Homo sapiens: one gene and its partners. The protein of the gene in region 1 interacts with the protein of each later gene in a pairwise test. Each region holds a gene or a part of one and is shown in the gene's direction. Other genes may lie near its edges.

Region 1 (7,030 bases):
CCTTTGAGTCTCTCTGGAGAAATGAGGGCATCCTCTGTATGTCTTGCTGGATGTGAGGGAGACACAGAGCACACGAGGGCTTCTGAAATCTGGCCTTGGGGGAATAAGAAGCCTTTTATGCTTCTGGAGTATAGATTTGTGCCTTTCCTGCTTCTTTCCTGCCAGAGTTCATCTGGCAGAGCTAAGCCTCACCCCAGGCTCTGGGGTCCGGGGGATACTGTCCTCCCAGGTCAGCCACCTCTCATTTGCATGGTGGACAGCTGCGGCTGACAGGCAAACAAAGATGTCTGCGGCCATGGCAGCTCCTAGAGAAACTCTTCTCTCCTTACTCTCAAATGCCTAAGATTAGGATCCACCACCTGCCACGGTAACCTACTTCCACGGCTTCTCACACCCCCTCACAAGGCAGTCATGATGATAGATGTGACTGCGTCGAATGGCTTCCAGAAATATGATCTTATTTGTACAACAGAGCCGTGCCCAAAGGAAGAATGCCAACCAGTGGGAAGCTCTGCTGGGGCTTTCTGAATTCCTAGACCCAATCACAAGCTGGTGTACTGTTGAACCATGAAAAAATTGAGTATAAACACCAGGAATGTCTGTGGCGCGTGGCGTCTACACTGGGTGACCCATGTCTACACTGTGAGTCCTAAGCGGGTGCCCCTCTCTGTCGCCCTCCCGCAGCCATCAAGTTCTCTGGAGACCTTCTTCGACTCCCTGGTGACACAAGCAAACATCCCCAACGTTTTCTCCATGCAGATGTGTGGAGCCGGCTTGCCCGTTGCTGGATCTGGGACCAACGGAGGTAGTCTTGTGGGTATCTTTTAGTCTTAAAGGGGCGAAAAATCACAGATGGATGGGCTGTTTTTTTCTGTTTTATTAAACACCTGAGCAGAAATATTAGGCATGTAGGTGTGCGTAGGTACTGTAAAACTTTCATCCTCCTTGTAGTAGATCTTTTTAGAAATGGCTAAAATTAGGCAATCCTTTATGTCATCCTGCCATCTGGAAGGATGATTCTCATCGCTTCTCCGAATTCCATTAAAACTTTTCTTTACCGCCCTTGGAAGGGCACTGCTTTCTGTGGGTGGGGGAGGGACAAGTGAGGAGCGGTGGGGGGCGTGGTGAGTGGACCTGACTGTGGGTAGGGGGCCAAAGGAGAGTTCATAAATTTGGCAGGGAAACAGGGGCCCTTGTAGATCCTTTCTCTCTCTCTCTCTCTCAACACACACAGGCACACACGCACCACAGCACAAGTGTTTGCTGCTGAAACAGAATCAAGGCCGTCAGCACTACGGAGGTGCTGGAGCCTGAGCTTCCCTCCAGGGGCCGGCACCCAGACGTCAAAAGTAGTAGGGGACAGGAAGAATGCACTAGAAGGGGGTGCTGCCAGTCCCTTTGCTGTCTGACTATGAGAGGCAGGATCTGCACCCCGGTCCTCAGCTACTTTCATTTGCTACCATTTCCAGGCAGAGGACAGCATAGGATTTATGAGGAAATGTTTTATGATTTTGCACAATGAAGCTTTGATCAGGGAAGTGCTTGATCTTCTGTTCTCTGACCTCCAAGGAACTAAATAATTGTCAGTCAGTGTGGTTAACTGTTTTATTGCATTTCTTTGAAGGAAAAATCTCAATATTGTAAAGCTAAACTTGTATGTACTTTCTTTGGATAAGAGAAACCTCCAAAGCATCTTGATTAGATGAGGGCCTAATACCATCTGACCTTTGCAGACGTGGACCCATAAAATTCCTTGTTTTATTTTATTTTATTTTATTTCATTTATTATTATTTTTTTTAGATGGAGTCTCGCTCTGTCGCCCAGGCTGGAGTGCAGTGACGCGATCTCAGCTCACTGCAGCCTCCGCCTCCCTGTTCAAGCGATTCTCCTGCCTCAGCCTCCTGAGAAGCTGGGACTACAGGTGCGCGCCACCTTGCCCGGCTAATTTTTGTATTTTTAGTAGAGATGGGGTTTCACCATGCTAGCCAGGCCGTTCTCGAACTCCTGACTTCATGATCCGCCCACCTCAGCCTCCCAAAGTGCTGGGATTACAAGCGTGAGCCACCGCGCCTGGCTCCTTGTTTATTTTTTAAGCATTGATATTTGTTTCATGACATTGTCACGAAGTAGAAGCCCTGATTGCAGTGAAGTTTCTCTTTACAAGTGCATGCTTCTCTGTGTAACCTGTTGATATGTCTGTGTATTTTTTCTCTTATACCTGTAAATATTTCCTGTCCCAGGTCTTGGGTGGAATTGAACCAAGTTTGTATAAAGGAGACATCTGGTATACCCCTATTAAGGAAGAGTGGTACTACCAGATAGAAATTCTGAAATTGGAAATTGGAGGCCAAAGCCTTAATCTGGACTGCAGAGAGGTATTTATGCTATGGTCTCTGTTGTGTCTTTCTGTGTATGTCTGGGTCCCTTAAATATGCCAGCTGGAACCCGTAGATGCCAATAGAAGGTACATTACCTCGTAAGATAAAGGCTCATTACATGAAAAGATGCAGGGCCTTGCTGTACAGTAAGTTGAAATCAATTAATTGTCCTCCCTCCCCACCCCAAATATTGCATCCTCCCAACCACTTATCTTCATAGGGCAAAATTACCATTAAATGGTGAGTGAAGAGGACTATCTGAGCTACACCTTTCACCATTCATTCATCTTGGATTGATGGTCCCTAAGCTCAGTTTAAGAGGTTGAAATAAACAGATTTTTAATCAGTGTAGGACAGAGAAGGACGAAAATTAAGCAAAATGAAACCGAAAAGATCATCAGCTTTTATCCTCCATTCACAGCTAGCCTGGCCCCCAGAGTACCCAATTCTCCCTAAAAAACGGTCATGCTGTATAGATGTGTGTGGCTTGGTAGTGCTAAAGTGGCCACATACAGAGCTCTGACACCAAACCTCAGGACCATGTTCATGCCTTCTCACTGAGTTCTGGCTTGTTCGTGACACATTATGACATTATGATTATGATGACTTGTGAGAGCCTCAGTCTTCTATAGCACTTTTAGAATGCTTTATAAAAACCATGGGGATGTCATTATATTCTAACCTGTTAGCACTTCTGTTCGTATTACCCATCACATCCCAACATCAATTCTCATATATGCAGGTACCTCTTGTCACGCGCGTCCATGTAAGGAGACCACAAAACAGGCTTTGTTTGAGCAACAAGGTTTTTATTTCACCTGGGTGCAGGTGGGCTGAGTCTGAAAAGAGAGTCAGTGAAGGGAGACAGGGGTGGGTCCACTTTATAAGATTTGGGTAGGTAGTGGAAAATTACAATCAAAGGGGGTTGTTCTCTGGCTGGCCAGGGTGGGGGTCACAAGGTGCTCAGTGGGAGAGCCTTTGAGCCAGGATGAGCCAGAAGGAATTTCACAAGGTAATGTCATCAGTTAAGGCAGGGACTGGCCATTTTCACTTCTTTTGTGGTGGAATGTCATCAGTTAAGGCAGGAACCGGCCATTTTCACTTCTTTTGTGATTCTTCACTTGCTTCAGGCCATCTGGACGTATAGGTGCAGGTCACAGTCACAGGGGATAAGATGGCAATGGCATAGCTTGGGCTCAGAGGCCTGACACCTCTGAGAAACTAAAGATTATAAAAATGATGGTCGCTTCTATTGCAAATCTGTGTTTATTGTCAAGAGGCACTTATTTGTCAATTAAGAACCCAGTGGTAGAATCGAATGTCCGAATGTAAAACAAAATACAAAACCTCTGTGTGTGTGTGTGTGTGAGTGTGTGTGTATGTGTGTGTGTGTGTATTAGAGAGGAAAAGCCTGTATTTGGAGGTGTGATTCTTAGATTCTAGGTTCTTTCCTGCCCACCCCATATGCACCCACCCCACAAAAGAACAAACAACAAATCCCAGGACATCTTAGCGCAACATTTCAGTTTGCATATTTTACATATTTACTTTTCTTACATATTAAAAAACTGAAAATTTTATGAACACGCTAAGTTAGATTTTAAATTAAGTTTGTTTTTACACTGAAAATAATTTAATATTTGTGAAGAATACTAATACATTGGTATATTTCATTTTCTTAAAATTCTGAACCCCTCTTCCCTTATTTCCTTTTGACCCGATTGGTGTATTGGTCATGTGACTCATGGATTTGCCTTAAGGCAGGAGGATCAGGTCACCCAGGACTCATTCCATCCCTGGGTAGACTTGCCTATGCAGCTGTGCCCGTAGTGGTTGGGGTGGCTCATCTGGTGTTGGCCACTGGTGTCCATTCTCCTCCCTCTGCCACATGAAGAACATTGCAGGTGAGGACAGGGCTGGCAGCGCCTGTGTGTGTCTCAGTCTATGATGCACTGTGGCCCTGGTTCTGTTCCCAGTGCAAATATGGGATGTCTGTTGAAAAATTGTCCATCCTTCTCTTCGTTAGTGAGGTCATAGAGAATTGATTTGTGTACAGTTTGTACAAATGGCTTTTAATATATTTCAGCCTCAAAAGACAAATAGGTCTTCCCTCTGCCCTGGGGCAGGAGTGCAGGTCCTCAATGAAGGAACTTGGGCACCTCTGAGTAAGGAAAGAGCTGTGCCTTGGGAGGGCTATTGATTTGCTAATTTGGGCCGTGTCCCCTCCCTTTCCTGGGTCCATTTCCTTGTCTCTGAAGTGAGCGTGTTGGGTTGGAAGACCCCTGGTTCCCCAGTTCTGAGAACATGAATGAACTACACAGTCCATGATGACTGGTGTGGCTGCCTGGATTTGTGTGTAACAGACAGATGGTGATGGCGGCTAGAGCCACGTGGGGCGGGGAGCGCCACTGTCACTCACGCACCTTTCCCTTTCTCTCCCGGTTCAAGTATAACGCAGACAAGGCCATCGTGGACAGTGGCACCACGCTGCTGCGCCTGCCCCAGAAGGTGTTTGATGCGGTGGTGGAAGCTGTGGCCCGCGCATCTCTGGTGAGTCCTCGGGACACTCACGGGTCCCCGAGTTGCTGAGTTACAGTCACCTGCTGAGGAGCAGCACTGCGTGTTCTGAGCATCTCTGAACTATTGCGCCATGTATTTCCAATTTTCATATTGTGTATTTGTATATTTTATATGTAATAGTATAGGTGTAATATGTAAATATATTTTATATGTATTTAAAATCTTTATATTTTGAAGGGTTTTGTTTCAACTATTACTTGTTAATTTCACAGTCCCTTTCTTTGATGTTAGCAAATAGTACCTTCATGAACCTCAGAGGACTTGGATCTGAATGTGCAATGCCCTCTAGTATTTCAAATAATAGTTCAGTTGGTATAGTATTTTTTTAATCTGCAAAAAACAATACTTGCTAATATAGCTATGTTAGAGTAAACAATAAATCGAGAATAAATTTATAGCCTTTGAAACAAAACAAACCAAAAATTTTACTCCTTTTTGGCTTTCATCCCTGCACTGGTATCTTAACTTCTGTTTGTATAAAAGAATACCATTTTTTCACAGAAGACAAAGAACAATCAGCCAATCTAATAATTATTTTATGGCCATGCTCTGAAATACAATTAAAATTATGATTGTGGACAATATGCCTTTTCGGGACCTGGCTGATGGTATTTCTGGTGTGACCCCAACTTTCCAGTCAGTTCAGGGCAATAAACATTGGATACAGGACAGCTTTGGGGATGAAATAGAATTAAATTTAGTGTAGTTTTTGCCACTTTTAGCTGGATGCCTGGCGAGGGGTTTTGTGCCCTCTGAGAGCCTCCGTCTTCTCAACTGAGGGGTGGTTGTGAGTTTTGGGTCAAATGCTTGGTGTTTAGTAGATGCTTGGAGCTTCCATGAAACATGCAACCACGGCGTTGCTGCTATTTGTTCAGATGCGAGAGGAACATGACTTTTGGCTGCCTGAGTGTTCTCATAGCATCTGGGCCTTCCTTGTGAGATCGTCAGAAAGTGTTTCCTGCACAAAGCCTGTACTGCGGCCCTGGCGTGGGGCTGATTGTCCCGCTACTCTGCTGTGATGGCTGAATTCAAAGAGTGGCCGATAGGAGCACGTATGGTGGGTGCCTTGTTAACAGCTCATAGCAGAAACGTGACAAGCGGGAGAGGGCTTTGGGTTGTCCTGAACTTCAAACACCTGTAACTGCTGCGGGAAGAGCGGCACGTGGATGAAACGGACACAGAGGGGGAATAGGCAGGAAAGGACGCGGGCTCTTTTCGAAGCAGCAGGTCTCAAGGCGGCCAGCCACTGGCGCAGCTGCAGCTGAAGCCACGGCAGAGTCTCCATCCTTCCCACTATCTGCTGAATCAGAGAAAGTGGCAGGCAACATTTTTAGTGCCTTAAATTTAGAACGCTTGCTCAAAATCAGACCCTACTTAAAATAAGGAGCGATACCCTCATTTCTTAAATAGTAAAAATGCCCTCAGCAGAATTAACGGGAGTATCTTCCAACTTCATATCCTGAATGGAAAAGTCTGTCCACCATCCCGAGGACGTGTTTGAAGCGCAGTGTGAAAATCCAGCACGTCGTGGACCGGCCAGACCCCTGTGCCGTGAGAGGCGGGGCGGCGGGGCCGTGGGGCGCTCGCACTCCCGAGCTCATCGTGGCATGCGCTGAGCCGAAAACCACGAGGTAGAGGGAATGAGATCACAACATTTGTTTGCGTTGTCTAAAATTATCCTCTGATTTCATTCGGTGCCTGCGTCAGGAGGGAGAAACATGGGAAGGTTGTTTGTCTTGGGCAGGGAAAGCATCACAAGGGCGCGTTGTGTGTCTGGCTTACCGTCTCTGGACCAAAGCTGTGTTTGTTTTTCTTATCTACCAGTTCCAGTAAGCCAAACCTCTTGGCGTGGGTTTCCTTCTGGTTAAGGGGAGGGCTGGCTTCAGAGAGTGAAAGACAATAAAAACGTGGAGCTCTGTCCCCTGGCATGGATTGTTCAGATGGGATTCTAGAAATTAAGGGTTTGGAGTTCTGTATTTAGAAATGAACCTGGAGCGGGGAGTGTTGTACAAGGTGCAGCCCATGCAGAGGCACCGAGACCTGGGCTCGTTCCGACCCTGCCGCAGTGCCC
Region 2 (5,939 bases), on another chromosome or scaffold:
CCCCCCAAGTTGATACCAATCCAGAGGACTCCCCCTCCTTTTGGCTTGCCTCCTTTCCCGTTCCTATGGAAACCAGCCTTTCTCCTCCTCCCCGGTCCCACCCACCCCACCCAGAGGCCACCCGGGAACGGAACAGGATGCTGGGGTTCCCCTCCCTGGGGCTGGGCTCATGGCTGTCCCACCATCCTGCAGCATTACAGCAAGGACAAGGGCGCTATCTGCACCAAGCTGGTGAGACCAAAGCGGAAACACGGGACCAAGTCGGCCGAGGAGGAGCTGGCCAGGGGTAGGGGACGCCCAGGAGGGCAGACCCCCTTCCCTACCCACGTTAGCCCAGTCCGGGAGGAAGGGCCCTGGGGCCCCGCACCTCTGAGGCCAGATCACCCAAGCCTGTCTCCATGCCCAGCTATGGGATAGAAGACCTGGGCTGCCTCGGGGGTGCCCACAGACACAGATCAGTCCTTTATTCAATAGGTCCCCAGCTTCGCCACTCATCTGTCACCATCATCCACCATCTGAGCCAGAAACCTGGCCCCGAACCTCCACCCACCCCATCCTCCAGCATTCCCTCCTTGGCCAGGTTCCCAAGACCTGGTGAATCTTCTCCCCTCCCCTCCCCACAGCCCAGCCTCAGGCCCTCCCATCAGACCGCCTCCTTCCCAGAGGGCGAGTCCCCCTTCCAGCCCAGGCCTTGAGTGCAGCCTCAAGGTTATCTTTCTATCATGAAACCATGCCTCCAGGGAGAGAGGCCCAGCAGCTCCACCACCTTCCAGAACCTGCCTGCATGGCCTGAGCCACCTTTCCAGCCTCATCTGCAAAGCCCTTCCTCCACACATCCACCCCCTCCCAGGTCAACTGTGATCATCGTTTTCTTCATGCCTCTGAGCCATTGTATATTCTGTTCCCTTCACCTGAAATGCTTTTCCAGCCCCTAAGTAGTGAAATCCTCAATATTTAAGGTCAAAAGCAAATGCCTCCTCTGACCCCATGTCTGTCTCCTTGAAAGTATCTCTCTGCTGGGGAAGTCTGTACCCATCAGGGATGGCATCCAGGTGGAGACTAGCATCACCCTGGCCAATGATCTCTTAAGACCGTGGCATTTGGAGGGGGCACTTTCTGGAGGGAGAAGAGAACGTCTGCAGAACCGACCAGAGGGCAGTGGAGGGGACAACACAGGAGTGCTTGGGAGAAGGGTCAGGGAGGCTAGAGCCCTGGAATATTCTGGAACCTTTATGGGTCTCCATGTTGTGTTTTTTTGCTCTGTGTGTGTTTCTGGGGTGGTCAGAGGTAAAGAACTGTGTAGGGAAGAGCCCAGAGGGTATTTGGAGGGACAAGAGAGCCAAAGAGAAAAGGGCAGCTCTTATCTCTGAGAACTGAAGTGTTTCCTGGCACTACCCCTTGGGCCTGACTGGGAGTTCCTGGAGGGCAAGTGTGGGGTCTGAGGGTCTCAGCCAGGCAGGCCCCCAGCTTTGACTATTCACACCACTATCCCTCCTGTAAGCCCCTTTTTGTTCAGGTCAACCTGAGATAGTTCTGTTGCTTGCAACAACAATAATTGGTACCAGGAGTGGGGTGTCTCTGATATGTCCTAGGGGCATTGCCAGGCCCAGCAGCCACTCAAATGTGTATCCACAGCTGCAGCACTGTGAGAGACATCACCTAGTCTCTCACCAAGTAGAACCCCCAATGGGAGGATTTAGGGGGCCCATTACCCCTCTGACTGGGTCTTCACTCCACAGCGGGCTGGTTACTGAACCTGCAGCATTTGACATTGGGAGCACAGATCGGAGAGGGAGAGTTTGGAGGTGAGTGGCGGACTGGGTTGGGGGTGCTGAAGGAAGATGGGAGGTGCGTATTGAGGCTTTGGAGTCACAGAGCTGAATTCAAACCCATACTTAACCACCTACTAGTTGTGCAGCTGAAGACGTGCAAATCCTCTGAGCCTCAGTTTCCCCCTCTGGAACAGGGGGTAATGGCAGCTGTCATGAGGAGTAAGTGAACTCAAGCAGGCGCTCAGTCAACGTTAGTGACTTCTTCACACTGCCAGGGTCTTGTATGGTCAGTCCCACTGTTTGGAATGTTTGAAACACCATTCCCTGAAATTATTATTCTGGAAGGCTCTGGGGTTTAGATCAGGGGTCGGCAGACTCTCTGTAAAAGGCCAGATTGTAAATATTTCCTGCTTTGTGGGCCAGGTAGCTGCTGTCACCACTACTGAATCCTGCCCTTGTGGAGTGAAAGCGACCACAGACAATATGTAAACATATGGGCGTGGCCATGAAAACTATGACCCAGAAATTTGAATTTTGTGTAATGCTCACATGTCCTGAAACAGCACTCATCTTTTGATTTGTTTTTACAACCATTTAAACATGCAAAAACCAGCCAGGCACGGTGGCTCATGCCTGGAATCCCAGCACTTTGGTAGGTCGGGGCAGGAGGATCCCTTGAGCTCAGGAGTTCAGGTGCAGCCTGGACAACGTAGCGAGACCCCCATCTGTACAAAAAAAAAGCCAGGCACAGTGGAGCATGCCTGTAGTCCCAGCTACTCAGGAGGCCGGGATGGGAGGATCCCTTGAACCCAGGAATTTGAACCTGCAGTGAGCTGTGATCACGCCACTGCACTCTACCTGGGTGAGAGAGTGAGACCCTGTATCAATATTTTAAAAATAAAAATGTTGGCCGGGCACAGTGGCTCATGCCTGTAATCCCAGCACTTTGGGAGGCTGAGGCGGGCGGATCACGAGGTCATGAGATCGAGACCATCCTGGCTAACATGGTGAAACCCCATCTCTACTAAAAAAAAAAAAAAAAAAAATTAGCCGGGCGTGGTGGTGGGCGCCTGTAGTCCCAGCTACTTGGGAGGCTGAGGCAGGAGAATGGCGTGACCTGGGAGGCAGAGCTTGCAGTGAGCAGAGATGGCGCCACTGCACTCCAGCCTGGGCGACAGAGCAAGACTCCGTCTCAAATAAATAATTAATTAATTAAAAATAAAAATGCAAAAAACATTTTGAGCTGAAGGGTCTTGCAAAAAGAGGTGATAGGTAGATTTGGCCCCGAGGGGGTGGGGGTTCACAGACCCCTGGCTTAGATGGTTCTCTCTTTGTTTTTGTTTTTTGTGGGGTTTTTTTTGAGATGGAGTTTCGCTCTGTCACCCAGGCTGGAGTGCAATGGCACAATCTTGGCTCACTGCAACCTCTGCCTCCCGGGTTCAAGTGATTCTCCTGCCTCAGCCTCCCGAGTAGCTGGGATTACAGGCATGTGCCACCACACCTGGCTAGTTTTGTATTTTCATTAGAGACAGGGTTTCTCCATGTTAGTCGGGCTGGTCTTGAACTCCTGACCTCAGGTGATCCGCCTGCCTCAGCCTCCCAAAGTGCTGGGATTACAGGCGTGAGCCACCGCGCCAGAGCCAGATGGTTCTCTGATCTTGGGTCTGGAGCTTGCAAGGGCGGCAGGGGTGAGGAGCATGGGGTCTGTGTTTCAAGGTCTGGGGACCCGCAGCTGTGTGAATGTTACATGGGCACCGGTGTGAGCGGGCCTGTCCGTCTGTCTCTCTGTCCCTGTTTGTTGGGGGTCCTGATCTCACCCCGTTCCCCACCCCCACCCCCCAGCTGTCCTGCAGGGTGAGTACCTGGGGCAAAAGGTGGCCGTGAAGAATATCAAGTGTGATGTGACAGCCCAGGCCTTCCTGGACGAGACGGCCGTCATGACGTGAGTCCCAGGGTGGGGCTGGGGACCGTGGGACGGGGGGGGTCCCAGCCCTGCCCTCACGCCCACCCCACCGCCCCCAGGAAGATGCAACACGAGAACCTGGTGCGTCTCCTGGGCGTGATCCTGCACCAGGGGCTGTACATTGTCATGGAGCACGTGAGCAAGGTGGGGCGGGGCCCAGGCGGGGAGGGGGCCCACGCAGCGGAGCAGCCCCAACATCCCGCGGCCATCTCCCACCCCCAACAGGGCAACCTGGTGAACTTTCTGCGGACCCGGGGTCGAGCCCTCGTGAACACCGCTCAGCTCCTGCAGTTTTCTCTGTAAGTGGGACTCTCAGGGTGCTGCGGCACTGGGGTCGTCGGGGCGCAGATTCCAAGATCCATCAAGGGGAAACTGAGGCACGGGGCAGGGAGGCTTTGTGAGCTTGTGGCCCCAGGCACCCCGAGCTTTCTGAGCCCTGAATGTGGGCATCCTGGCACCTGAGCCCCCACTGCCCCCTACTACCCCCAGGCACGTGGCCGAGGGCATGGAGTACCTGGAGAGCAAGAAGCTTGTGCACCGCGACCTGGCCGCCCGCAACATCCTGGTCTCAGAGGACCTGGTGGCCAAGGTCAGCGACTTTGGCCTGGCCAAAGCCGAGCGGAAGGGGCTAGACTCAAGCCGGCTGCCCGTCAAGTGGACGGCGCCCGAGGCTCTCAAACACGGGGTGAGCCCTGCCTTCACATACCCCTGGGGCTTTGGGGTCCCCCCAGCTCTGCTGTATGACCCTGGGTATGTCCCTTGGCCTCTCTGAAACTCCAAGGGCAATGGCTATGCCTCCCCAGGAAGCTCTTGGCCCATAATTGTTCCTCGTAGCCCCCCTCTGGGCCTCAGTTTCTCCAGCTCTGAAAAAGGCGTGGGCTCAGGACTGAAGGGAAGAATAACCAGGCTTCCTTCATGCACTAAGGCTGAGCTAGACTCAACTGCGGGCGGCGTTGGGGGAGGACTCAATTAGGAGAAGACCAGAGAGTGAGGGTCAACCCAGGAGGGCTTCCTGGAGGAAGCAGGGGCTGGAGCAGAAAACCTGAGGGGTCCCTCCTCACCCCCGTCTCGGGCCCCACAGAAGTTCACCAGCAAGTCGGATGTCTGGAGTTTTGGGGTGCTGCTCTGGGAGGTCTTCTCATATGGACGGGCTCCGTACCCTAAAATGGTGAGCGGGGGTCCCAGGGAGGCACTGGGTTCCGGGCAGGTCCAGAGGCTGTGGCCCTGACCCCTGCCCACGCCTGCTGTCCGCAGTCACTGAAAGAGGTGTCGGAGGCCGTGGAGAAGGGGTACCGCATGGAACCCCCCGAGGGCTGTCCAGGCCCCGTGCACGTCCTCATGAGCAGCTGCTGGGAGGCAGAGCCCGCCCGCCGGCCACCCTTCCGCAAACTGGCCGAGAAGCTGGCCCGGGAGCTACGCAGTGCAGGTGCCCCAGCCTCCGTCTCAGGGCAGGACGCCGACGGCTCCACCTCGCCCCGAAGCCAGGAGCCCTGACCCCACCCGGTGGGGCCCTTGGCCCCAGAGGACCGAGAGAGTGGAGAGTGCGGCGTGGGGGCACTGACCAGGCCCAAGGAGGGTCCAGGCGGGCAAGTCATCCTCCTGGTGCCCACAGCAGGGGCTGGCCCACGTAGGGGGCTCTGGGCGGCCCGTGGACACCCCAGACCTGCGAAGGATGATCGCCCGATAAAGACGGATTCTAAGGACTCTAGGCGCCTGTGTGTCTCTGTGTCCCCGTGCCCTCTTCCCCGGGGGCCACCTTTGGTGATCTGCTCTCGGACACCCCCAGGCGCCAGGCATCCTGGGTCCTCCCTTAGAGGTCCACCCCCCCTAGATGCCCTGTGTGCCCCAGCCCCAGTGGTCACCTTCCTACTCTGTGGAACCCACTGCAGCCCACATGATGGGATCAATTAATTGGGACCCCACTGATCCTTGGCCGAGTCTTGGGCACCCACCGGCCCCAAGCCCCTGCCTCCTGTGGCCACATGCCTGCACACGGGGGCCTCCCCATCTTGGCCCATGGAGGATCTGCCCAGCTGGCACCTGCCTGCTGGCCACTGTGGGGACACCGTTCCCTGGGGGATTCTGGGCAGGGGACCCACTTGCCATTACCCACGGGTTCCCCACTGCAGTCCCCCAGGGCATGTGGTATTCAGTGGTGGGCACCCTTTCCCAACCCATGGGGTCCCAGGCTTAAAGGATCTTGG
Region 3 (6,963 bases), on another chromosome or scaffold:
AGGCCAGGAGTTAGAGACCAGCCTGGGCAACACAGTGAGACCCATCTCTATTAAAAAAAAAAAAAAAGTATTAGAAAAGCTAGAATAGCCTTATTTTCACAATGTGGAAAGAAATTTATATGAAATTTATCTGAGTCATTAAAATTATCCTTAGGTGATAATTTTTTAGAAGTACATTACAGCTAGTGTTGCCAGATAAAATGCTGGATCTCACGCAGTACCTTTGCAAAACATGATCTAAAATTTAAATTTGTCCTACATTTGTACTTGCTAAATCTGGCAGCCTTAATTATTACACAACTATAACGCAACACAAACAATAATCTCTCCCCTAGTTTAGAGTCCTTTGCACGAAATTTAGCAAATCCTTAATTTTGAGTACAGTACAAGCCTGGTAATCCAGTGTGTTTGGGATAGGCTGGTGGAACTCAGAACTGATACATATATACATACATGTCTATCACATTCACTGTCTATTAGGTGTAAATCATCTTTTTATGTAAAAGACACTACTGGTTTGAGGATAGAGTTGTCTAGGAATGTTTTGTCCTGCTGTGACAGCATCACTATGCATCCCAGTGTAACATTCCTACAAAGGGAAGATCTCTTAACCAGGCATACTTACATTTGCTAGTTAGAAAACCATTCTGAGCAGTTTTAACTCCATTCAGTTGAATGGTGTACTACATTGTATGAGCTATTTGTGGACCAGATATAAATGACTATCACCCAGAACCACTTTCATTCAACATATGTAAAATGTGATGAGTGTTAACATTTTAAATAAGCGATCTGCTTAATGAACACTGATTGGTATGAAGGGGAAGTGTCATTCTTTACCTCACTCCTGAAACACTTTTCTATCCAAAGGTTGGTTTGAGTCAGTATTGGCGTCATACAACCACTTACTATAAAATAAGTTTACTGGTGGTAATGTGATGGAATTTATTCCGGATATCTGATGTTATAAACTTTAGGGTCCCTGAAATATGCAGGATCCTTGTATGTAACTGGCATAAACCCTGTAAAGAGATAATTAAAGTTCTTGACAAAGCATAATGAGCAAAATTTCAGCTAGCTCAATACAGTTGTTGAGGTGCTCTTTCTTACCCATTGTTTGAGCTCTCTTAATTGCTTTTGTGATTTGTTTCTTCCCACAAAGACCTGTAAAATAAAAAGCTTCCTTATTCATAAAAAAGTCAATATTTAAAGTTAAAAAAATGTTTATTTCTCAAACTGAAACATTATTTCTCTATCTCTTGACCTTTTAGTACACGTTTTTGTATATTCGGTTTTACTAAATCAAGTCAAACCTGTTCCAGGTAATGTGATGTTATACATGATAGGTTTCATTTAGGGTGGGGTGGCTAAGTTGCAACCCTTTTAAATCAAGGCTCCACCTCAGGAACCTAGGAATGTTAGGTAGGAGATGAGGAAGTCCACAGCTTGCCAAGAACTTCAGCTATTCCATAAACAATCTGATTACATATCCCGACTCTTGCACACGAAACAGGTTATCCAAGTCTTAAACTTGATGCTTTTGTGCAGTATGAACCACCCTTTCCGTGGACATAATCATGCATTTGCACATTTAAATACCATTTTCTATGAACAGATCAGTATGCCAAAAACCACTGCAAAGTCTCCTACACACACCTTGCCTTGACTTTCTGTACATTTCTAGTATTAAAGAATGGTGTAGGCAAAATAAAGATATATGTGTAAGAAAAAAAAGACATGCATGAAATGGTTTAATTTTAGGGAACTAGATTTATATTTTATCTGAAAAGAGTATTAATAATATATAATAGACCTTTGAAAGTTAGACGCATAGTTCTGCGAAAGTGGTGCCTAAGAATAGTATGTCAATTGACAAATTTTTTCCATAAAGAATCTGATTTTGCTAGACTACCTAATCACCAATTAACATCCTCCAGTAGGGAAAAAAATATGCTTGGTGACATGTTTAAATCGCTCTCAAGAGTACTGAAGATGAATGATCTTCCAATCAAGTAGCTATTTGATTTAGTAATAACAACTAAAAGATGGGAATCCTCTTCTTCGCACACTCATTTTAAGCTCCAAGGTAATTCCATAGATTCAACATTTAACACGTATATTCAATATTACACATTTTTTTTCCGGAGTGAAATGGCTCTGAATGCCTTACAGAATTTGCCCTGCTCTCCTTAACTAAATACTTTGTCTATTAATACTTCTTTCTTCTTTTCCCCTTGTTCTTTCTGTGCCAGACCCACACACGTCTGCTGTAATTGAACATGCCAGGCACATTCTCCATTTAAAGCCTTTTAACAGCTGCTGTCTCTGCCTAGAATACTCTTACTTGGGCACACACAAAACTAGCTTCCTGGTCTCCCTCAACTGTCTGCTCAAACTTCACCTCCTTAATCATGTCTATCTGTCCCTCTTATTTAAAATTGTAACTCTACCACTTCTGATCTCCACACTTGATGCCCCTGGCCTCCCTTTTCCTCCACTGCATTTGTCACTAACATCCCGTATAATTTTCTTAGGTATTATGTTTATTGCCCATTTCTCACCGAGAACATACGCCTCAGGGTGGAAGAAGTTTGTCTTTTTGTTGTTGTTCACTGCTTATCCCCAGTGTCAGGAGACATGCTTGGCACATTGTAGGTCCGCAGTAAATATTTTTTGAATTAATAAAGAATATTTCTACCATCTGCTAGCTTACTGTTCATGCAGGAGCTCAAATGTGCTTTAAGCATGTGATATGTTTCAAAAGTCAAACTTCATCCTTAGGGAGAACACTGTCATCTTCTCCTCCTTTAAAAAAAAAAAATAGGAAAAAAAGCAAAACAAAACATCACCTTCTCATTTCCCCACCTCCAACAAAAAGAGTGTTGAGTTTTCTAAAGAAATAATACAAATGGATAAAACTGCAATTTGTTGTCCTTTCTCTCACATGCAAAAAGAAAAGAAAAAATACTGCCGAGATTTCGGCAGCGTGCTGAGCTTCATCAAAGCATTAAAACAATGCTGCTTGAGACGTCAGAGGCTCATCCAGGAAGTGCAACCCAGAGGGCAGGATTTCCTGCTGGACTTTGAAATCCAACCCGGTCACCTACCCGCGCGACTGTGTCCACGGATGGCACGAAAGCCAAGCGAGTCCCCCTGCCGAGCTACTCGCGTCCGCCTCCTCCCAAGCTGAGCTCTGCTCCGCCCACCTGAGTCCTTCGCCAGTTAGGAGGAAACACAGCCGCTTAATGAACTGCTGCATCGGGCTGGGAGAGAAAGCTCGCGGGTCCCACCGGGCCTCCTACCCAAGTCTCAGCGCGCTTTTCACCGAGGCCTCAATTCTGGGATTTGGCAGCTTTGCTGTGAAAGCCCAAGTGGGTAACCAACAGCTTGGAGGACCCGAGTGGATTCGATTCTCTCTCACTCCTCGGCCACTCAACTGCTCCTTGTCCCTGACTCCGCGGTGGGGATGAATAACTCAACTCATTTCGGGCCGCTTTTCTCAGAGGGCAAAGATGGGTCAGGGTGGGATGTTACATTAGTGTTGAGACTCTTTGGATCCGTTTCGTGGGTACCGAGGACGCCTGGGTACGCGGGACAGGCTGCACCCGCCTGCTAGAGGCGCCCCATCGAGGCGCCACGGGTGAAGCTCCCGGCCCCACCTACGGGGCGGGGCTCCGGCTCGGTCCGACTATTGCCCGCGGTGGGGGAGGGGGATGGATCACGCCACGCGCCAAAGGCGATCGCGACTCTCCTTCTGCAGGTAGCCTGGAAGGCTCTCTCTCTTTCTCTACGCCACCCTTTTCGTGGCACTGAAAAGCCCCGTCCTCTCCTCCCAGTCCCGCCTCCTCCGAGCGTTCCCCCTACTGCCTGGAATGGTGCGGTCCCAGGTCGCGGGTCACGCGGCGGAGGGGGCGTGGCCTGCCCCCGGCCCAGCCGGCTCTTCTTTGCCTCTGCTGGAGTCCGGGGAGTGGCGTTGGCTGCTAGAGCGATGCCGGGCCGGAGTTGCGTCGCCTTAGTCCTCCTGGCTGCCGCCGTCAGCTGTGCCGTCGCGCAGCACGCGCCGCCGGTGAGTGAGCTTGAGCCGAGGCGCAGAGAGGGGCGTGCAGGTGCGGGCGCGGATGGAGGCGCAGGTGTGGCGGCGCGAGCGGGTACAAGGAACACCTCGTGCTGGGCAGCTTCTTTACGGGGGTCTGTGGTTTCGTGCACAGGGGTGTGGGTGCAGAGCGGGCTGGCGAACCCCGTCCTCGGTAGATTCGGTGCTACCTGCAACTAGAACTCCTTTAAAGGAAATCCTAGTCTCTGCAGGATACCTGGGTGTGATTCGCACATTCTTAGATTTGAGTGAGTGTACTTGAATAACCAGTTCCAGGCCCTTGCATTTTGAAGTGTTTAAATAAAATGTTCCGGTGGACCTGTGTGCATTACTCAATCAAGGACAGACTGCCTGATGGTCAGGTGCTTTCTCCCGAAGAAGTTCAGGAGTTCAGCCCAGGATACTGCAGGGCCGTGGGAAACGCTGAGTGGTCCCAAGCTTGGGCGGTGCGAGCAGCCCAGAGCAGGCCCCAAAGGGCCCCCTGTGGCCTTTTGCACCCAAGTCATGGGATCGCCTGTCCCGTGGCTCTTTCCCACGAGCAAGTCACAGGGCTACGGACTTCCTAACTGCAAGAGACAGTGAGGGACGAGCGTGACTCTTTCATTTTACAGAAGAGGAAGTAGACCTAGAGTGAGAAAATATTTAGCCAGAGGTTACACTGTTGTTTACTGAACATGCGTAACGTCCGAGCCTCTTGACGCCCAGTACTCTTTCATAATTCATTTCTTTATAAAGCAATCAGACTGCGTTTGTCTTTGCCAACAGAATCGGATAAGTAGGAACCTGGCGCATCTGGCCTGAGGCTAGATGGTGATGGTCTTGAATAGTTTAGGTAGGTTATTGAAAGTGGAAGCAAGATGTGCATTGTCTTCTTTTATACCTGTAAGGAGAAATTCTTTAAAATCATGGTGGGATATGATTTAGCCATTAAAATTGATATAATGTTCAGCAGATAAAAGTAGAATCCAGAATAGTATATACAGTTTTTCCTGTAATAGGAAAATACACAGAACATGTATGTGGACACGATTAAAGGCCTTAAAATAAAATTGCTCCATTGTGGGTAGGGAATTAATTTGCTTGACGGTAGTTGGTTTTATGGGAATTGGGAGAGACTTTGATACTTTGATACTGTCAGGGCCCTTCATTGAAAGACCACCAGGAACACACCATAAGCTGAACAAATTGGGTTTAGTGTTCTTTGAGGCAAAGGAGACCACACACCATGAGCGACGGACGGTAGGTTATAGAAAAAAACCCATTACAGAATTTGAACTTCGGTTGCATGATTTGGGGTAAGACTGAGGAACCGGGCTTTGCTGTAGATAGAATGCTGTTAGAAGGTGGGGCAATTCTGACTGAGTAAAGAAGGAACAGCCATTCTGTTTAGCACGAGAAGGGGATGTTTGGTGTTTTGTGCGTTGCAGGTGCCCTTGTTTTTGTCTGTTCTTAGAGAAAATCTTCAAGTGGCATTGCTTTGTCTTGGTGTGTCATGTCTCAGAATAATCTTATCCGACGTAGGTATCTGTGGGATTGTTGATGTCCAGGAGGAAAACAGAGCTTACCTGGCTGTGAGTGTCAGATCGGCTTGTAATAATATTGAGAGATAGCTGTGGGACTCAGAGCAGTTTCAGGTGTTGGAGGCTGTTTTTTCTTCTTTCTCAATAGCTTTATTTATTCTAGCAAAAGTATTTTGATAGCTATTTTCAGAAGAAGAATTAACAACCTCTCAATGGATATAATAGTTCTTATCTAGAACAGCGATTATCAAAGTCTAGTCTGGCCACTGGTGTCACTTTGGGAAGCTGTTTTCACAGGTTTTCAATGAAACTGGAAAAATAAGAATGCAAAACTAAAATTATTAATTTAGAATGTTAATCTTTACTCTGATTGTATGGACTTCAAGTTTTCATTGTTGCAAACGTGTTCTTAAAAATAACGGCAGAGGTAGATGTTATGTGCATGGAATTTGTTTTGTTTTAACATCTCCATTTGGCAGAATAAAAATTTGGACCCTCCTGTGCCAAGGCCTCATTAATTTTTTTTTACTGGCCTGGAAAATCCTGGGATCCATGCACTGAAGGACCTTTAGAACCTTACAGAAGTTTAGTGACTTCATTCTCTGAGAAGAATAAGCAGTTTTTCAACTGGAGTCATTATATGATAAACTATAGCCTCATGGTAACAAAAGATATTTCAAAAGTACTTTCAATAAATATGAATAATGAGAAGCAGCTTTAAATTGGAAACAAGTCATTTGATTTAGAACATCTGTAAGGATTTTTTGTGTGTTTGTTTTTGAGGCTTTTCACAATATTCCTATGTGAAGGTCCTCCTGAGTTATTCTTCATTATTGAATTTTTTAGGAGTCTATTAAGAGATGATGGTGAAGACAGTGGCACAAGAAATGTCTGGAGAGATAGCGCCAGATGACATCATCCAGGGTTCTGTAGACTCTTATTAAGGATTCAGAAATTTATCCTAAAAAATGGGAGGATCTGGAACCAGCCAATGGGAGGCCATTAGATGGTTTTAGACAAGATAACATTTTCACTTTAAAAAGATGAGTCTGGATTGGAGGTCAGCAAGGGTAGATATGAGGAGACTAGTCCAGAAAAGAAAACAGGGTGCGTTGAAGGATGGTGGCGCCAGGGGTGAGGGAGAGAAGTAGATGTTCTAGAAAAAAATCAGGAGGGCGAATGAGCTGAAGGAATCGTTGGGTGAGGATGAGGGAGTGAGGTGTCAGCGTGACCTGCACATTGCTGAAGTGCTTCGCTGGGCGAATGGTGGCATCCGTTCCAGGAAACATGGGGAGGGGAAAGCTTGGGGGCTAAAGAATGAGGATCGTTTTCATTTGGGGTGTATGTTAA
Region 4 (7,030 bases), on another chromosome or scaffold:
AAAACCCTGATCATTAAGGTCAGGCTGTTTGCATTTCCAGCCCTGCCCCCTGCCCCAAAGGGTAGTGCTTAGTCCAATTCAGCTGACGGTTCATCTGTGCTCATGACATCAGACTGCCACCCTCTATGCCACAAGCCCACCTGAATTAGCCCACTGAGTGTTAGTGCTGTGGGCTGGCCCCTTCCTGAACCTCCTGATCCTGTCTCCACAATGTCTAAAATGTGGTTGGAAAGACAGCATAGACTAGATGTCCCATTCTGGCTCATAACCAAGCCATGGGGTGGTAGGGTTGGGGGTTCTCATCAGTCGTAGTAGACTCCTTACCTGTAGCCTGGTTAAGTCCTGTCATACGTGGTCCAATGGGTAAAGCTCCTTAGAACTCCAATGGTAACCAAACTGCCTACATCCATTTGCATCTTCTGCAATCCAGGGATTTAAAAGTAATGGCTTCTGGCAAGTCATCTCACTACACTGCTGGTCATCTCTGTAAACTCGCTCTGTAAACGGCAGCTGATAACTAGCTCTGTTCCTTGAGGGAACCAACAGGTCCCTAAGGGGCTCTGCCTCACTCCAGTGAGGTTCAGGAGCCCAAATGGAGTAAGTTCCAGTTAAGCTCTTCATGTTCTGTGCTGATATGCCAGGCACCAGGAGTTGTCTTTAACATTGTACCTGCACCAGCCAGGCTGGCCAGTGTAATATTTTTCAATTAGCAAATCTTCCAATAATAGCGTTTTAACAATGAAGATCTAAAGAAAAAACTTGTTCTTAATTTTTGTCCAAGGAGGGGAAAAAAAAAAAGAAGACTTCTAATAATCATATCATCATAAATTCTAATGTGGGGAACATTTGGCTGTGTTACAAAATTTGCAGCTAATAGTTAAAATAAAGATTTAAGTAAATGCCTTTATCAATAAAGTAAATGATAGGGCATATTCTTCTCAGCCAGAGTCAGAAATGGCAGCACATAGCCATGTGCTGAATTGTCACACAGTGCAAGTCTTTAAAATTCCTTCTGGATTTGAAGGTATTAACAAGTCCCTATCAACAGTCTCTAAAGGCTTTTGATGTCATTTTAGCTATTGAACGAAAATATGTGAACTATTACTTTGTTGATTTTGTTCTTAAACTAAACTGCATTATCATCTGAGAGTGTGTTCTTAAAGTATTGTTAAAAGTACTTTGAAAACTTGTAAATCCCTGTAATTTATGTTACTCCTGCCTCTGCTGTTTCATTCTTTCCTTCTGGTTTTAATTTGAATGTAGTCCTGTCTGGGTGTGTACCTGTAAAATTGTGTTTTTCCAAGTACAATTTACAGTTCTGACCTTAGGTTTACAGTGTTCCCAACCATCTAGGAGCTTCCTCCTATACCACGAAGTGGGCTTTGGGTCACCCAGCTCTTTCATATTAGAACTGTCTAATCAAGGTTACTTGAAACAGATCTAATTTTGACATTTCTTAGTTTATCATGGAGGCCTAGGGAGTAAATTAAGAGGGCTTCCCTGCAAGCCCATTCGTTGCATTGCCCTATTTCTTTAAATGTACACAGTTGTAAACTTAAGACTGCTTCAAGACAACAGTCTCATTTATCTAAACAGTTCTCCTTTTAGACTCAGTGGCACTGATGGAAACAAAGATAAGAAGTATAGATTGGAGGAAAGGTCTTTTGGAGCCTATAACTTTTTTTGAAACTGTTCCCATTTTCCTTAGAATTACCTTTTCTTTCTTGGACCTGCCTGCATACAGAATAGATCTGTCTGCATTGAGTGTATTCAGTGAGCTAAGCTAAGGGAAGACTGCAGTGGGCAGGGCCTTACTTTCTTGTGAGTGAACTCTTTGCAGGTTTTAAGGAATATGACTACTCTGCTTTAAGGGGGTGTGGGGAGCACTTTGTTAAAGCAATGTGCATTCTGAATCCATTTCATAGGCGTCCTTACTCCGTGGCAGCTACACCTTTAATCGTGGATTATAATAACTTTTAAATGAGTGCAAAACTTTCAGGATCTTTTCCTTAAGTTGGGAAATGAGATTTTTTTTTTCTGCTCTTTTCAAGTATCACTTAAATTAAGCTCTGGTACGGAGTCAGGAGTCTTTTTCTTTACACTCCTTCAGCATGTTTTCCATGGTACTAGCCGACACTGTGCAGGTGGGTGAGGGACAGGCTGGGGCGTTTCGGCAGCTGACCTGGGCTGCTCTTCCATTTCAGGTGATCGTGCAGTCCGGCCGCCACCCCACAGTGCTGCAGAAGCTCTGCCAGTTGCCCTTCCAGTATTTCAGTGACCCACGGCTGATCAAAGTACTGTTCCCTTCACTTATCGCTGCTTGTTACAACAACCATCAGAACAAGATCATTCTGGAGCAAGAGATGAGCTGTGTTTTACTGGCCACTTTCATTCAGGTACCTTCTACATTATACGTAATTGTCTAGCTTTGTGTGTAAACTAATGCGACAGAAATGTAAAAGTAAGCCAGCTGTTTATTTTTGCCTTCCATACTACCTTTTAAAATCTTCACATATTTATGTGCTCCAAAATTGATTTCTAAAATATCAGCATAGTTTCTGAAATATTACTGGAACTGCGATTGGGTGTTGTATAATTTCTACTTGGAGGATTTCAAAGAAAGGATACTTTTCTAGTTAATGAAATGGTAACCCGTACTCAGGAAATGTTTTTAAAAGACTGCCAGACTTCTTTAAGGCTTTAACTATTGTATTTATCTTGCTTTTATTCTAACTATAGGAAATAGATAATTACTGAAGAAAGATGAATTAAAATTAGTTTATTTGTACATTTTTAAATAAATATGATTTTCTTATATGTATAAAATAAAAACCTGTTATATTGATTTTTTTAATGTAAAACAACTTTTAAGTACAGCCTTATATTTTAAATTCTGTAGGGCTAGAATCAGAATTAGTGCCATAGCAAAGTACTATTTCCACATCTAAATTAACTTAGTCAGCTGAAAAACCAAGTTGACTATGCTTTAACATTTGCTACTAACTAACTCATCCTGTGAATTTCTTTTTGTCATTATAGAGCATTATTTGCTGAAAATCTCCCATTTCTTTCACATGTTCCACCATAAGATGTGTTTTTGCTCCATGACACACATGTGATGAGTAGACAGTACTTTCTGGTCTTCAGAATAATGAAACAGAAAGCAGAGTTCTGTATTAGTATTCTTCCATATTCTGGTGAATATACATCTATCTCTGTCAAAAGGATATGATAGTACCCAGCTGGCTGGGAACTAGAGGATAGCTAAGGAGTTCCCCGAGCCCTCTTCATCTTAGACAACATTTCAAAGTTTATGTTTTCCAAACTATCCTGTATTAGATAATTAATAAACGCAACTAGATCAATTATGTTAGAAAAGTTTTGTTTTCGGCTTAATTGTTCTGTTTGAATCTACGTTTTATTTTCTGGAAAAAAAGTTAAATTAGATATTTAGATCTACAAATATGGATTTCAAAAACTGTCTTATAGTTAATATCTTAAGAAAATTTTACAGTATATAACATCATATCAACACTTAGGATTCTTCATATATTTTTAGAGCCTTAGGATTAAATTAAATAGAAAATACATTATGGACCAGGTGTGGTGGCTCACATCTGTAATCCCAGCACTTTGGGAGGCCGGGGTGAGCAGATCACTTGAGGTCAGGAGTTTGCGACCAGCCTGGCCAACATAGTAAAACGCCGTCTCTGTGGGCACCTGTAATCCCAGCTACTCGGGAGGCTGAGGCAGGAGAGTAGCTTGAACCTGGGAGGCAGAGGTTGCAGTGAGCCAAGATCATGCCACTGAACTTCAAGCTGAGTGACAGAGCGAGACTCCATCAAAAAAAAAAAAAAAGAAAATACAAATACATTATGGATAATTTTAAGAGTGTGCTCTTTCTAAATTCAGATTATTCATTCTTTTATTGAACAGGTAATTTTTGAGTGTGTAAGGTGTGCTGGGCACTGCAAATACAGCAACAAATAAAACAGATAAAAATTCCTGCCTTCACAGATCTTTCATTAAAGTGGAGAAGAGTCAAGCAAAAGACAAAAAAAAAATTAGTAAAACAAATAGTATGTCAGATACTATGCTAAGTGCTATGGCAATAAGTGCTGTGGAGAAAAGTAAGGCAGGAAAAGGAGCTAGGGACTTCAGGGAGATGATGTGCAGGTTTTTATGATGTGGGCAGAGAGGCTTCAACAAAGAGACAGTGATGTTTGAGCGAAACCAATTTCACATCTGTATCAGCTTAGTTCCTTATGTTTTCAACTGCATAGACAATGACTTATAATGATACAAATGATATCAGGATCTAAAGATTATATATATTTCTTGTGTTTATCTGATATTGATCACAAAGTACTAAGTCTACCTTTGTCTTACAAAAAAAATCTGTAACATAAATTTTGTAAATGCTAAAAAAAATTTCTTATATTGTTTATTTCAGATAGCATATTAGACTTGTAGAGTTAAATCAAGTGTTTTTCTATAAATAATTGTGCTCAAGAGAATGAATATAGATAGGATTTTAGTTTATAATGTGGTTCCTCAAGGTCTCTTATGTGTTACATTATAACTGAGTTACTAGAAAATGATATTAAAATAGCAGCTGGTTGTCTTAGGTTTCTGAAGATTTACATATTTTATATTACATTTTTCATTTTCCATCTACATGCAAAATTACCAGACTTTAAGATTTAGCTGCAGAATACATAGAGCTTTCATATTTGTACTTTTTAAAAAAATGATCAACACCTGTTGATATTTTAAGATAGTAAATTTGGCTTAAATTTTAGTTTTATTAGATAAAAAGTTGTAATTTCCAAAGTAGGCAGCAAGTTGTCCCCTGGTGATAATTTAGCAAGATGTAAGTCATTACTATTTATGAGAACCTGCACTACGTAACATCAGTTTCTTCAGCGTTTATATTTGGGCCCCAAAATATTCATACAAAAGTGGTTGCATGAATCAGAAGTATATTTAAAGCCACCCTTAGTGAAATTCTCTGTTCATAGCATTGATAGAAAAACACTTTTCTCTCCTCATACAGGATTTGGCACAGACTCCAGGTCAAGCGGAAAACCAGCCTTACCAACCCAAAGGTATGTCTCTATTGAAATTAAATTTCATGTGTTTGTTAGCCAAATGGACATCTTTCTTATCCTTTCCTCTGGAACTGCTACATTATATGTAAAATTTTATACATAACCTAAAAATATTTGAGATTCAGATACCAAGTATATTTCAGTAAGTAAAGAAATCGATTTTGTCATGAAGCATGAATGCATCCAAATATGTATAGAAATCTGTGGGAGTAAAAGAAAAGCACAAATATCTTTGTATAATTTATAATCATCTCATGCAAGATATATTAAATGGTAAATAATTACTAAAGAGCCGCTTTGTAATACAGGAGCCAGATCATTAATACTGGCCCACATTTCTCACATAAATGCTGAAATCACATAGGTTTGGTTCCTTATCCATGTTCAGAATAAAGTTATCAGTAATAGTAGCCCACAGTTTCCCCCCAAGTTCAAGTAGTTGAACTTTTGTTTTGAAAATAATTGTTTTACATGGAGAAAAAGTCATCTAATTGGCAAAGTCCAGGGCAAAAGATTTACAAGTTGTTTTTTTTTCCTATAGCATTCCTGCTGGGGTGTTTGCTGTGATCAGAGTTAGAGATGTAGAATTTTTACCACATTTTTACTTTTTTAAATATTCTGCTACCCAGACTGTAATTGAGAAGTACAAGTTGCTCTTTGGGTGTTATGACAGCATCTCTGATGAATGAGAACCTAATCCAGATCTTCTTCAATTCTTCCATTAGTTTGATAGTCTTTAAAGTGGCCATTTAGAGGTACACTCCCAGCAGGACCCTTTAGGGCACCCACCAAGAAACCCTTACTTGGTGGGGGTGGGGGTGTTACCTTGGACTCTTTCACACACACACACACACACACACACACACAAAGTCCTCTACAGTGGACAGGTGTTGAAAAGTGCACAGAAGAAAATATAACTAAAGCTATTACAATATCATGAAAAGAAAAAAAAAAGACGTTTTATTGACTCAGGCACCCAGAAAAGTTAAACAGAAAGCTATGCAACTTTTCAGAAATTCAAGTCCACATCCTTGTCGGTACCATTTGTCTGAGCAAGAATTAGTCTGCAAGTTCAGTTCTGCCCTGACCCAGTCACAGCCCTTTTTTTGTTTTGTTTTGTTTTAACTACTGGAGGATACTTGGGGAGAAATCAGCAAAATGTGTTACTGTTCTTACAAAACAATTTCATTTTGAATAAATTAAAATGCTTAGAAAAATCTAATGTATTTATTTTCAATTGTACAGCAGTTTTGTTTTGTTTTGTTTGCCACTAAGAAGTATAAGCATTTTTTTCTTACTCTTTCTCCTGATCATAAAGATGAGTCACAATTTGTTACATTGTCTGGAAGACACAGTCCCAGAAGCTGCCTCTCTCTGCTTGGTGGACTGAGGCCTGTGGAAGTCTCAACCTTCTTTCTTTTCCAAGGGACCATCTTCCCTGATTTTCATGCTTTCCCCCAGTTACAGTAGGCTTAACCCACAGAACAGCAAAGGGGGAATTGGTCTCTCCTTTGCTCAGAAAGGGTCATCACTATGTTAATGACAGCTCATAATATGTTGCTTGATTTTTTTTTTAATGATGATGCCTAAGTTGCCAGTTTGCACCTTGGGTATTTGTTCCCCTTTTGCCTAGATTAAGTCCTCATAAAATGTCTCAAGATATTTTGAGTTCATTGTCCAGGTAAACCTTTAAATATAAAAGCAGCTCTTGGTAATACCACATTCCTATTGCCCAGGAAGAATTTTGGTTTTCAAATACCTACTGCCTGTCTAGCTGCAATTGTTTACTTTACCTATGTCACTGGCCAGTAAAGCTCCTATCATTCATTCCTACTGCTTTGTTAGATAGGCTGTGCTATATTTGAATAATTTTAAAGATATACTTAAAACTACATTCATGTTTTAAATTAAATAGACTT

Evidence for each region.
Region 2: the proteins of BACE2 (region 1) and MATK interact in binary tests that used the Homo sapiens proteins (3 or more experiments, as listed by UniProt).
Region 3: the proteins of BACE2 (region 1) and ASAH1 interact in binary tests that used the Homo sapiens proteins (3 or more experiments, as listed by UniProt).
Region 4: the proteins of BACE2 (region 1) and SCAPER interact in binary tests that used the Homo sapiens proteins (3 or more experiments, as listed by UniProt).

What each region holds. Positions count from the first base shown.
Region 1 is NC_000021.9:41,241,135-41,248,164, forward strand, and holds part of BACE2 (beta-secretase 2 isoform A preproprotein), read left to right. Parts: intron 1-684; coding exon 685-813; intron 814-2,241; coding exon 2,242-2,376; intron 2,377-4,827; coding exon 4,828-4,929; intron 4,930-7,030. UniProt on the Homo sapiens protein: Responsible for the proteolytic processing of the amyloid precursor protein (APP).
Region 2 is NC_000019.10:3,777,473-3,783,411, reverse strand, and holds the end of MATK (megakaryocyte-associated tyrosine-protein kinase), read left to right. Parts: intron 1-192; coding exon 193-286; intron 287-1,739; coding exon 1,740-1,805; intron 1,806-3,614; coding exon 3,615-3,714; intron 3,715-3,794; coding exon 3,795-3,879; intron 3,880-3,960; coding exon 3,961-4,034; intron 4,035-4,224; coding exon 4,225-4,420; intron 4,421-4,816; coding exon 4,817-4,903; intron 4,904-4,989; coding exon 4,990-5,229; 3' UTR 5,230-5,439; downstream 5,440-5,939.
Region 3 is NC_000008.11:18,081,084-18,088,046, reverse strand, and holds the start of ASAH1 (acid ceramidase isoform a preproprotein), read left to right. Parts: upstream 1-3,939; 5' UTR 3,940-3,988; coding exon 3,989-4,066; exon of another isoform or gene 4,067-4,130; intron 4,131-4,850; exon of another isoform or gene 4,851-4,925; intron 4,926-6,963. UniProt on the Homo sapiens protein: Lysosomal ceramidase that hydrolyzes sphingolipid ceramides into sphingosine and free fatty acids at acidic pH.
Region 4 is NC_000015.10:76,349,315-76,356,344, reverse strand, and holds part of SCAPER (S phase cyclin A-associated protein in the endoplasmic reticulum), read left to right. Parts: intron 1-2,204; coding exon 2,205-2,396; intron 2,397-5,056; coding exon 5,057-5,108; intron 5,109-7,030. UniProt on the Homo sapiens protein: CCNA2/CDK2 regulatory protein that transiently maintains CCNA2 in the cytoplasm.